2 linked regions of the Homo sapiens genome follow. The protein of the gene in region 1 interacts with the protein of each later gene in a biochemical or structural test. Each region holds a gene or a part of one and is shown on either strand. Other genes may lie near its edges.

Region 1 (7,030 bases):
GCTCGCCACCACGCCCGGCTAATTTTTTGTATTTCTAGTAGAGTTGGGGTTTCACCATGTTAGCCAGGATGGTCTCGATCTCCTGACCTCTGATCCGCCCGCCTCGGCCTCCCAAAGTGCTGGGGTTACAGGCGTGAGCCACCGCGCCTGCCACTACTACAAATGTTTTAACAAACCTTTCAACAACTATTTGATATTCCACAATTTAATAATTTACTAACATTATAATTTAATAATTATAATTTGATCTAGCTGTAGCTAGACAATTAGGTTGTAAGCAGTGTTTTGCTACTGTGGAGTAGCATGGGTAGAATTGGTTTGAACTGTAGAAATGGTTTCTGTGGTGAGATGTTTCCCTTTAGATAGGGTCCCTGAAATGTACTTACCAGGTCAAGAGCTACAAACTTAATCGGTAGTGCCAATTAAAGGGAAATGCCTGTCAGTTTCCCCACCACGGGCTGTGGCTGGGGACCCATGAGTCCTCCTCTGACTTGGGTGCTCTCGGACCCTCAGGTCCCTGGTCCACACTCCATCCATGACGACCTCAGACCTTTCTACACACTCCACCACCTCGCTCATCAGCAATGAGGAGCAGTTTGAAGACTATGGGGAGGGTGACGATGTGGACTGTGCCCCCAGCAGCCCTTGCCCCGATGATGAGACCAGGACCAACGTCTACTCGGACCTGGGGTCTTCGGTGTCTTCCAGGTGGCCCCTTGGTCTGGGATGTCATTTGGGGTCAAAAGTTGCAGAAGCAATTTAAGCACATCCTAGGGGGTGGGGGGGTGCGAGTCCTGAGCTGGCCCTTTTCCTTTGTCCTCAGCTACTTGAGTTCTGCTCCTGGGGCTTGGGGTTGCTACCTTCGCACCCTGATTAGGGGTCAGGAGTTCCTCCTGAATTAACTGACCTAGGAGGCTGCACACTGGGGGCCACGGGGCTCTGTGTCATCTTGTATCCTAGAACCTCAGTGTTGAAGCATCCTTCCAAGTGACCCCTGTGATCCCTTCTCACCCACCTGAGTCACCACTTTCTCTGAAATGAGCTCGCAGTTTGCCTTAGCTGTTAAATGGGTATGCCTCACTGGCTTCTCTTTGAGCGTGTTGGAGAAGGGATGATCTGTTGCTATATTTCCACTCCCTGCCCCTCCCCCGTAACAAGGTTCAAAGGTACTGGGGACTCAAGTAAAGTCAGCTCAGCAGGGTGGTGTAGGGCACCAGACTGGACAGCAGTTAAGGTGGTGATTCCTTTCCCTCATGAATCAGTGCGGGGCAGACGCCTAGGAAAATGCGGCACGTGTACAACAGCGAATTGCTAGATGTTTACTGCTCTCAATGCTGCAAGAAAATCAACCTGCTCAATGACTTGGAAGCCCGACTGAAAAACCTGAAGGCCAACAGGTGAGGCCCAGGCCCAGCTGGGGGGTGAGAGGCCGGGGGGCCAGGGCAGGGCCTGGAGGGAGAAGCTACGGGCATGGCGAGGCGACCCCTGCTGTCTGGGCAGGTGAGAGCTCTCAGAGGAGGGTTGATCCAGGGGCTTTTTCTGCCACAGGAAATCAGGCTGTTTCTTCTCAGGACCAAGCTGACTAGTGAATTCCTTTCAGTGGGAGGGAAGAGCCTTGTCCTGCACTGTGGTGTCTTACAGCTAGGACAGAGTAAGGGAGTGGACTAGAACCCCTCTGTTCAATGACTGTTTCCTTTCTCTCTCTAGCCCCAACCGAAAGATCTCCAGCACGGCCTTTGGACGGTAAGGCCCGCCTCGAGGGAGGGCAAATTGAGTGCTGTCCCCATGCTGCCCACTGGCCGGGGCTCCCTGCCAGCAGCCCGGACTCAGCTGGTGCCCGCATGTGGCTGAGTGAGCAGAGGGGAACGAGGCCATCCCAGGGCAGTGCAGCCAGGGCAGCGTCACTTCTGAAAAAGAGGGGCCAGCTCCTCCCTGCTCTCTCCCCACCCCTTGTCCCTTCTTCAAATCCTAGGTCACCTTGACTTCAGGCAGGCATGCCAGGGATGCCCTGAGAGAGACAGAGCACCCCACAGCGTTCAGTGCCCTTCCTGCCTCTTGGAGCTGGCAGCCATACTCAATAAAGAGACCCCGGGTTTCCTGCAGGCGGGGATCTGGGCATGAGTGTGCGCCATTGGGGCTGGTCACTTTGCTCCGATTAAGTCCTGCGGCAGTTCAGTGTGGCCCCAGGTCCACACTCAGGGCTCTGGGAGCTGGCAGCAAGGGCCCAGGAGCTAGGTGGGTTGGCCTCTTGGCAGAGACCCTGGCTGCTGCCTATCAGGGAGCTGGAAGGGGATGTCACTGGGGGTGGCAGCTGGATTTTGCCTCAGGCACGGGTTAGCTCAGCAGGCCCAGTCCCACCCCAGCTCACTGCTCTGCAAGGCCTGGAGAATTCTCTGCCTTTGCCATCCCCCAGAGTTCCCAGAGACGTAGCAGGAGCCAGCTTGGTGGAGAGGCTCAAGCCTCAGGAGGCCCAGACCCTCTTCCAGGGCCATGGAGCTGGGCTACCTCCTTGGGGGCTTCCCCACTGGAAGAGGAGGGGGCTCACGTGCCAGCTGAGGTCACTGGGTAGCTGCAGGCCAGCATGCTGGCGTGAAGAGGGTTCTGAGGCCGCAGGAGAAGCTGTGCGTCATTGGCTGTGTCTGCCAGGGGACCCCGGGGGTCTGTACAGCCCATTTGCCATCCTCTGGGCGGGGTGATCCGCTGAGTTTGGCAACATTCTTCCTCTCAGGCTGAGTGAGGGCAGCCTCCTTAAAGGGGCAGACCCCCTGGGGTACTGGATGCTCGCCTAGCCAGTAGTGTGAGTAGGCCCCTGTCTCTGGAAGGCCCCTGCAGCCAGACACCCTCCTCCCACCCCTGCAGGCAGCTCATGCACAGCAGCAACTTCAGCAGCAGCAATGGCAGCACCGAAGACCTGTTCCGGGACAGCATTGACTCTTGCGACAATGACATCACAGAGAAGGTGGGCCTTGGGTGGCTGGAGAAGGGACTGAATGCATGCCTGCTCCCAGGGGAGATGGGGTGCACTCAGGCTACTGTCTGGGGACTTGGGAGACCCTGTACCTGCCTAGGAATTGGGGGCAGGTGGCCCTGGTCACGTGTTCCCCACTCCCCCACCCCACACATGACCGTTCTCAGATACACAGTGGTTTGGAGGTCCTGCTCATGAACCTCATGGCGTCGAGGTTCTCGGTTCTGTGGCCTCAGAGGTCTTCTCCACCCCACCCCGGCCCCCTGCTGCAGGTAAGCTTCCTGGAAAAGAAGGTGACAGAGCTGGAGAATGACAGCCTGACCAATGGGGACCTGAAGAGCAAGCTGAAGCAAGAGAACACACAGCTGGTGCACAGGTCAAGCAGGCAGCGGCGCTGGGGGCTCGGCCGTGACGCTGGGGAACAAAGGGGGGTCCATCTTGCTAAGACCTCCAGGAGGAGGCAGCCTCATGCCTTTGCAGCTCTGAGGGTCTGTGACGCATCAGCCTCTTGTCACATGGCCCTGCCCACATGTGGTGCCCAGGACAGGACCTTAGGGACAGGGAGACAGGTTGGAGCTTGACCTTGGCTCTAGGCCCAATGGATTCTACCCCCTGAGGTCTGAAGCCACAGGGCTGGTCCAAGATGGGAGTGGGGATCCACTGTGTCTCACTCATACAGTGACAGGAGCCTGACGTCCCTTCCTAGGGACAAGCTCTGCAGGGGACAGGCCAGTGTGAGCTGGGCGGTGGGAAGGGTCCAGCACTGCTGCTGATGGAGGTCCCCTGAGCCTGCCGTTCCTGATGCTGTCTGCAGTGGTGGATTCAGGGTTTAGTTGTCCTCACCAGATGGCATGACCCTTGGGGGACATACCCTGGCCAGGGGTCCGGTCCTCCAACTTGTCACAGGGCCCAAAGATGGGCCCTTTTGTACACCCCAGAAGGTCAGCCTGGTGGAGGGGCTGTTGCCAGTGAGACGTATCCCAGACCGAAATACCAACCAGGCTGTCACTGGGGTGCTCACATCTACGTGCCCCTGGCCCTGTCCCAGGTCTGGGGCAGACTTCAGGCCACCAGCCAGGATGTGCCTATTTTGGGAGTCAAGGTGCCCAATAAGCTGAATTATTAATCAGAGGGGTGGCCGGGAAGGAACAGCACAAAAAGAAGAGGTGAGGCCTGAGGTGGTTCCGGCCAGGTGTGGCTGCAGGGACTGGTGGGGGCGGTCCCTCCCTGTGCTGCCCTGAGCGCCCCACCTTCTGACTGCCAGGCCTGCCCCTCCATGGCATGTGTGACCGACACCCCCTCTATATGTGCGGTGTCCCCGTTCATCTCTCTGAAAGCTACTGGCCCACACGCCCTCAGTGGACATGCCAGTGACTCAGGGTCTCGGGGCCCAGGGTCCCCCGTGCCACAGCCTGGGTTGGGGTGAAATGGTGCAGGCCCCAAGAGCTTGCCCATTGCGCTGTCCTCAGGGTGCATGAGCTGGAGGAGATGGTGAAGGATCAGGAGACCACGGCCGAGCAGGCTCTGGAGGAGGAGGCGCGGCGCCACCGCGAGGCCTACGGCAAGCTGGAGAGGGAGAAGGCTACCGAGGTGGAGCTGCTCAATGCCAGGTGGGCCCCTCCACCGAGCCCCCTCCCTCAGAGGGACCCCCTGTCCTGGGGCAGCCCTGTGGGATAGGCGCTATCCCCATTTTATAGATGGGAATGTGAGGCTGAGGGGCAGCCTCTTGAGACTTTCCAGTAGTAACAGTTCCACTTTAATACCACGAGAAACACAGAGGCATGCTCTTCAGGAAGTTCGCTAAGGAATGTTCCCAGGAGCGTGGCTCACATTTGGTAATGCAAACCACACAAATGTCTGTCAGAGAAAAGGGCCTGGGCTGGGTCTCACATCCAGGCCTGGAGCGCCCCCTGCTGTCAGGTTCTCCCCTGACCCCTGGTGGACTGAGCCAGAGCCCCAGGGCCAAGGTAAATGGAAAACCCGGCTCCTGTGCCTTGCGTGTACCTGTGGCTTCGTCATTGGAACGTGACGCAGGCGGGACAAGGAGCAGCCCCGGGCCAGGGATCTGAGTTGGTCTCCCATTAGCTCCATGGCCTTGGACGTACTGGGTCACCTCCCTGTGTGCCCCACAGAGCGGCTGTGTGGGTGGGTGAGCCGATGTAAGTCCAGACCCTGCCCACGGGTGAGGGCTATGATGATGCCTCTGTGATGAAGCCCCTTTGCGGCCCTTGACCGAGGCCGAGGAGGCCGCCTGGGCTTCTGGCAGAGAGGACAGCTGCCCTGGCACTCCTCAGGCCCCCTGAGGCCCCAGTCTCCATGCTGAGGCTTCCCAGAGTTGCCGAGCCCCACCTGGCGGCTGGTGGGCTGCTGAGCAAATGACTGGGAGTTGGGCTCTCAGGCAGGTACCTCCCTGCCCCCGTGTCCCTGCCCCTGTGCAGTTTGGTGAGGAGACTTCCCAACTCCCCGGTGTCTGAGACCTGCTTTGCTAAGTTACCCACCAGGGGTTCATTTTACATTTTGACTCTATTCTAGAAGCTGCTGTTTTGCATCTGTTTCTGGAGGCTGGTGCCTAGTTAAGGGTGACTGCTCTCGCTCAGCCCGCCTCGGCAGCTGGCCCAAGAGAGGTGGCTGGGACACGGGAGGTGGTAAAAGACAGTGTGAACCTGGGCCACAGGACAAAGTGCAGAAAGCCAGCCCTCGGGAACTGTCTCCTAACGTGTGCCCGTCACACAGCTCCGGGGGCGCCATTCGTGTAAAATATCCGAGTGGTGTTCCCAGAGTCCTGCCGTATGCTTGGTTCCCTACCACTTCCACCCGCTTGGGGCCACCTGCTGGTGGTGGGGCTGAATTCCTCTCTGGAGCCCAGAGGGCAGTGGAGGCCCAGAAGCCATCCTTCCAGGAAAGAGGACATGATGGGGAGGTGGTGGGTTGAGAACGGGATGCTCTGCAGGAGTCACTGCCAGAAGTGACCCTGTTCAGTTCTGCTGCCACCGACGGCCCAACTCACCTGCACCTATTCTCAGACCATTTAAAACTGACCTGAGGCCGGGCACAGTGGCTCACGCCTATAATCCCAGCACTTTCGGAGGCCGAGGCAGGTGGATCACGAGGTCAGGAGATGGAGACCATCCTGGCCAACATGGTGAAACCCCATCTCTACTAAAAATACAAAAATTAGCCAGGCGTGGTGGTGCGCGCCTGTAGTCCCAGCTGCTCGGGAGGCTGAGGCAGGAGAATCGCTTGAACCCGGGAGGCAGAGGTTGCAGTGAGCTGAGGTCACGCCACTGAGACTCCGTCTCAAAACAGACAAACAAACAAAAAACTGACCTGAACACCCAGGCTCTGTCTTCTTGTGGAATCCCTTTAGGATTCCCTTTGTGGAATTCCTGTGTGAACGCTAACACAGAGGATTATTACTGTCAGAGCCCATGCCTGTGGTCATCAGAGGGAGGTGCAGTGAGCGCTCAGAGAAGAGCCCTGGATGAGATGCTGTTGGCGGAGAATGAAAAGCCAATATGATCATTGCCTTCAAGTTACAGAGTCTAACAGGAGGGCCCAGTCACAGAAGCCACAAGAAGACTGTTTCTCCATCTAGCAGAAAGACATCCCCGTGTTGTCTGAGGATCTGAAGGATGCATACAAGAAGAATCTGCGTTCCTACTCTCTAATGAATGTTTCCACTTATTGGAAAAATAAAGGCCACGTGTGGTGGCTCACTCTTGTAATCCCAACACTTTGGGAGGCCAAGGTGGGCGGATCACATGAGGCCAGGAGTTTTTGAGACCAGCCTGGCCAACATGGCAAAACCCGTCTCTACTAAAAATACACAAATTAGCTAGGCGTGGTGGTGCATGCCTCTAATCCCAGCTATTCAGGAGGCTGAGGCACGAGAATTGCTGAAGGAGTTAGAGGTTGCAGAGCTGAGATTGTGCCACCTCACTCCAGCCTGGGCAACAGAGCAGGACTCTGTCTCAAAAAAAAAAGAAAGAAAATAAGAATGATAATTTACTATTTTGCTTACAAATAGTCCTTACTATTTTGCTTTGGCTGATAGGAAGCTCA
Region 2 (5,863 bases), on another chromosome or scaffold:
GCAGACTTTGTGTCCCAGACTTCTCCAATGATCCCCTCCATTGTTGTGCATTGTGTAAATGAGATTGAGCAAAGAGGTCTGACTGAGGTAAGAGTCAACTGTAGGAGATGGTGAATTTGTTATTTGTGTTAATTCGGAGGTTTTTAAATAAAAATGTCATCTTGATAATAGACAGGCCTGTATAGGATCTCTGGCTGTGACCGCACAGTAAAAGAGCTGAAAGAGAAATTCCTCAGAGTGAAAACTGTACCCCTCCTCAGCAAAGTGGATGATATCCATGCTATCTGTAGCCTTCTAAAAGACTTTCTTCGAAACCTCAAAGAACCTCTTCTGACCTTTCGCCTTAACAGAGCCTTTATGGAAGCAGCAGGTAAGGGCAGATGTAATACTTGAATATGAATTCCTCCACGGCAGTAGTTTTTCTTACTCTCTTTATTTTTTTATTTATTTTTTATTTTTTAGACAGAGTCTCACTCTCGCCCAGGCTGAAGTCAGTGGCGCAATCTCAGCTCACTGCAACCTCCGTCTCCCAGGTTGAAGCGATTCTCCTGCCTCAGCCTCCTGAGTAGCTAGGATTACAGGCGTGTGCCACCATGCCTGGTTAATGTTTTCTATCTTTAGTAGAGATGGGGTTTCACCATGTTAGCCAGGATGGTCTCGATCTCCTGCCCTGTGATTTGCCTGCCTCGGCCTCCCAAAGTGCTGCGATTACAGGCGTGAGCCACCGTGCCCAGCCTCTTTTTTTTTTTTTTTTAAGACGGAGTCTTTCTCTGTCGCCCAGGCTGGAGTGCAGTGGCGCTATCGGCTCACTGCAAACTCCGCCTCCTGGGTTCAAGCGATTCTCCTGCCTCAGCCTCCTGAGTAGCTGAGATTACAGGCGTTAACGGTGTTATACCATGTTAGCCAGGCTGGTCTCAAACTCCTGACCTCAGGTGATCTACCCACCTTGTCCTCCCAAAGTGCTGGGATTACAGGCATGAGCCACCACACCTGGCCACCTTCCTCTTTTTATTAGCTCCTGCCTAGTACAATGCCTGAAACATAGTAGGTGCTCAAGTAGTTTGATGGATGAGTAACTGTATGCGTGTCACCCTTGCCTATCCTCTTGCTTTCTCATTACGTTATTGTGTACAGTGTTCTTCCTTTCTTTCCTTCCTCTCCAGTTAGGTTGGAGCTTTTTCAATTCTTAGAATATACCAAGTTTACTCCCTACCTTAAGGCCTTCACATTTGTTGTCTCAACCTGAATGCTCTTACATTAGATACAGTATGGTTTGCTCCTTTATTTCTTTCATATTTCTCTTCATATACCTTGTCCCCAGAAACACCTTTCCTGACAACCTTGTCTAGATTAACAGCTCTCATTTCTTTCTAGCTTCTTGCCTGCCTTGTTTTCTTCATTTATGTATCACTCTACCTGATAGGTATTTGCTTTTTGACTGACTCCACCAATAGAATGTAGGTTCCATAAGATAAGGGCTTTGTTTACTTCTGCTTTATCCTCAGCACTTGTACCTGGCACATCGTAGGCCCTTAAATATGTCTCATGAATGAATACCTTCTTGGTAATTGTAGTCACTGCAATTGTATGCCTGTCTGCCTAGCACATCAGTTGCCAACTGCTTTCCCTAACTGCAAAGGCCGATTTTTTAAAAGTTTTGACTTCTAATATTGAGCTGTTGGCCAGTATCCTGCTTGTTAATGAAACTAGAGTCTGATGTAGTCATGAACTAATCAGGAGTTTCAGAAGCTTACTGTATAGATGAGACTTTGTGGTCGATAACTTGGAAGCCCGCTGTCAAGGGAAAGAAGTCTAGGCCTCTTGGTGCTTTCTTTTCAATTACAGAAATCACAGATGAAGACAACAGCATAGCTGCCATGTACCAAGCTGTTGGTGAACTGCCCCAGGCCAACAGGGACACATTAGCTTTCCTCATGATTCACTTGCAGAGGTGAGTACAGCAGAAACTTGTTCTGGGAGTTAGGGAATTTTTTTCCAAGGGGAAGATAATGTGGGTTGAGTGTTTGGGAGTATGAGGGATGAATTGTTTTCTTATAGAATTTATATTTTGGTCTGCATTTAAGCAAGGAGCAAGACTTCTAATTTAATATTCTTTTGCTTAGAGTGGCTCAGAGTCCACATACTAAAATGGATGTTGCCAATCTGGCTAAAGTCTTTGGCCCTACAATAGTGGCCCATGCTGTGCCCAATCCAGACCCAGTGACAATGTTACAGGACATCAAGCGTCAACCCAAGGTAGGCAGGTGCGTGTGTGTGTGTATGTGAACTTGTGTAATGTGATAACTTGAAAGACAGTTGAGAAGCCCTGAGCTTTGGAAGTTTGCTAACAGATTTGCTGGCTTTTAGGTGGTTGAGCGCCTGCTTTCCTTGCCTCTGGAGTATTGGAGTCAGTTCATGATGGTGGAGCAAGAGAACATTGACCCCCTACATGTCATTGAAAACTCAAATGCCTTTTCAACACCACAGACACCAGATATTAAAGGTAAGGCCCAAGATGTGCTTCTTCAGGGACTTGACTCTCTCTTTAGTTTTAGTCATATGACCTCTTCCTGCCTTTGCTAGAGCTGTTTGAAAATTCTAACATTAAAGGAAAATTTGTATAATTCTACCATCGTAATTTTTTTTTGCTTTTCCATGTTCTCCTTTCTTTATCCATATGGATATATGTTTTTTAAATATAGATATAATAGGCTGGGCATGGTGGCTCACACCTGTAGTCCCAGCACTTTGGGAGGGAGGCTGAGGCGGACGGATCACAAGGTCAGGGGATTGAGACCATTCTGGCCAACATGGTGAAACCCCATCTCTACTAAAAATACAAAAATTAGCTGGGTGTGGTGGCGCATGCCTGTAATCCCAGCTACCAGGGCGGCTGAGGCACAAGGAATTGCTGGAACCCAGGAGGCGGAATTTGCAGTGAGCTGAGATCCCGCCACTGCACTCCAGCCTGGTGACAGAGTGAGACTCTGTCTAAAAAAAAAAAAAAAAAAAAAAAAAAAATATATATATATATATATATATAATAGTTTAAATATAATTCATTCTTATTTCACTTAGCATGTTGTGAGAACTTTTTCTCATGTATAATCTTATTTATCATTTACTTAAATGTTCTAGTAGGTATTAACATTATTTTTCAATTTTTCATAATTACAAGTAATGCTATAGTCAATATAGCATTTCTCTTAATGATAAATTCCTAAGAGTGGGATCACTGAATTAAATGGCTTGAACATTTTTATGTGTCTTGGTATGTTTTACCAACTTGATTTATTAAATTTCTTATAGGCTTTTGCCAATTTATATTGCTAACCAACAATTTTATATGAATAGGCTGGTTTCACTCCAGTCTCACTGGCATTGGAGACCCATTCTTTCATTATTGCAAGTTCCTTCTAAGGGAGCATATTGCTTCTTCTAGTATAGCTAAAAGTCAGATGTTTAGATGTTAGATTTGTGAAGTGTGGAGTTAGAGAATGGCCTAAATCAGGACGTGTCAGCTATTCATTGAGTTCAAAAGATACACTAGTGTGTTACAGAATGATGACAAAAATGATCTCTGGGACTTTGCTAGATGTCTAACCTTAGCTCTTAAGTGCTTCAGAGGGTAATCAGCTTAAAACTAGCCATCTAAAAAGATGCCTTCTTTTTTCCCACCTCTCTTAAAAATATGTCTGAACTTTGAAGTGAGTTTACTGGGACCTGTGACCACTCCTGAACATCAGCTTCTCAAGACTCCTTCATCTAGTTCCCTGTCACAGAGAGTCCGTTCCACCCTCACCAAGAACACTCCTAGGTATGCAGAATTGGCCTTCCTAGGAAATAAAAAACAACTACTTTCTTAGACTTCTTATTATATTGAAGCTTATTGAAAGAAAAATTGCATTCGATTTTAGCTAGCAACTAGACTTTAAAAGGGAACGTGGGGCTATAAGGATTCCTTCTTTAAAAAGGTTCTGAAAGTCTTTACTATTTCCCCTCTCTCGTTGTTGGTGACTAAGAATACTTAAGCAACTATTGCAAAATAGTTGTCTAGGGTTTCCTACTTATAATGGGTTATATCAAGTAATATTATAGTTGTTTATTCAACCATTTTTTATAGAATATTTTTCCAGTTCATTCTCTTTTTATTGTAGATTTGGGAGCAAAAGCAAGTCTGCCACTAACCTAGGACGACAAGGCAACTTTTTTGCTTCTCCAATGCTCAAGTGAAGTCACATCTGCCTGTTACTTCCCAGCATTGACTGACTATAAGAAAGGACACATCTGTACTCTGCTCTGCAGCCTCCTGTACTCATTACTACTTTTAGCATTCTCCAGGCTTTTACTCAAGTTTAATTGTGCATGAGGGTTTTATTAAAACTATATATATCTCCCCTTCCTTCTCCTCAAGTCACATAATATCAGCACTTTGTGCTGGTCATTGTTGGGAGCTTTTAGATGAGACATCTTTCCAGGGGTAGAAGGGTTAGTATGGAATTGGTTGTGATTCTTTTTGGGGAAGGGGGTTATTGTTCCTTTGGCTTAAAGCCAAATGCTGCTCATAGAATGATCTTTCTCTAGTTTCATTTAGAACTGATTTCCGTGAGACAATGACAGAAACCCTACCTATCTGATAAGATTAGCTTGTCTCAGGGTGGGAAGTGGGAGGGCAGGGCAAAGAAAGGATTAGACCAGAGGATTTAGGATGCCTCCTTCTAAGAACCAGAAGTTCTCATTCCCCATTATGAACTGAGCTATAATATGGAGCTTTCATAAAAATGGGATGCATTGAGGACAGAACTAGTGATGGGAGTATGCGTAGCTTTGATTTGGATGATTAGGTCTTTAATAGTGTTGAGTGGCACAACCTTGTAAATGTGAAAGTACAACTCGTATTTATCTCTGATGTGCTGCTGGCTGAACTTTGGGTTCATTTGGGGTCAAAGCCAGTTTTTCTTTTAAAATTGAATTCATTCTGATGCTTGGCCCCCATACCCCCAACCTTGTCCAGTGGAGCCCAACTTCTAAAGGTCAATATATCATCCTTTGGCATCCCAACTAACAATAAAGAGTAGGCTATAAGGGAAGATTGTCAATATTTTGTGGTAAGAAAAGCTACAGTCATTTTTTCTTTGCACTTTGGATGCTGAAATTTTTCCCATGGAACATAGCCACATCTAGATAGATGTGAGCTTTTTCTTCTGTTAAAATTATTCTTAATGTCTGTAAAAACGATTTTCTTCTGTAGAATGTTTGACTTCGTATTGACCCTTATCTGTAAAACACCTATTTGGGATAATATTTGGAAAAAAAGTAAATAGCTTTTTCAAAATGAACATGAGGCTGGTTTTCTTGTCTTGCAAGGTAATTTTCAATGCCTTTTAGAAAATCATTTCTGGGGCTGGGCTTGGTGGCTTATGCCTCTAATCCCAGCACTTTGGGAGGCCAAGATAGGTGGATCACCTGAGGTCAAGAGTTTGAGATATGGCCAAACTCTGTCTCTACAAAAAATACAAAATTAACTGGGCGTGGTGGTGCACACCTGTGGTCCCAGCTACTTGGGAAGCTAATGTGGGAAAATTGAGCCTGGGAGGCAGAGGTTGCAGTGAGCTGAGATCGTGCCACTGCACTCCAGCCTGGGTGACAGAGTGTGAGACCCTGTCACAAAAAAAAAAAAAGAAAAAATTACTTCCTTCAAAGTGTCTTGACTCTGTTGTTCATCCCCATTTCCCACTCTCTGGACCCACCCCAGGCTTACCACCACCGGGAGTTTGTTTCTTCATTTCTCATCCAGTCTCTCTTTGTCCAAACTGGAGTTGTAGAGTTGTCCTATGCCTGTTGTCTTGTTTAAAGAAACCAC

What was found. Proteins that work in one complex are often made in the same cells at the same time.
Region 2: the proteins of RAB11FIP4 (region 1) and RACGAP1 form a complex in vitro, tested with the Homo sapiens proteins (one study listed by IntAct).

The regions. Positions count from the first base shown.
Region 1 is NC_000017.11:31,520,653-31,527,682, forward strand, and holds part of RAB11FIP4 (rab11 family-interacting protein 4), read left to right. Parts: intron 1-513; coding exon 514-708; intron 709-1,262; coding exon 1,263-1,397; intron 1,398-1,707; coding exon 1,708-1,743; intron 1,744-2,859; coding exon 2,860-2,959; intron 2,960-3,240; coding exon 3,241-3,344; intron 3,345-4,437; coding exon 4,438-4,578; intron 4,579-7,030. UniProt on the Homo sapiens protein: Acts as a regulator of endocytic traffic by participating in membrane delivery. Required for the abscission step in cytokinesis, possibly by acting as an 'address tag' delivering recycling endosome membranes to the cleavage furrow during late cytokinesis.
Region 2 is NC_000012.12:49,988,638-49,994,500, reverse strand, and holds the end of RACGAP1 (rac GTPase-activating protein 1), read left to right. Parts: coding exon 1-87; intron 88-171; coding exon 172-370; intron 371-1,845; coding exon 1,846-1,951; intron 1,952-2,123; coding exon 2,124-2,256; intron 2,257-2,367; coding exon 2,368-2,503; intron 2,504-3,708; coding exon 3,709-3,817; intron 3,818-4,157; coding exon 4,158-4,233; 3' UTR 4,234-5,339; downstream 5,340-5,863.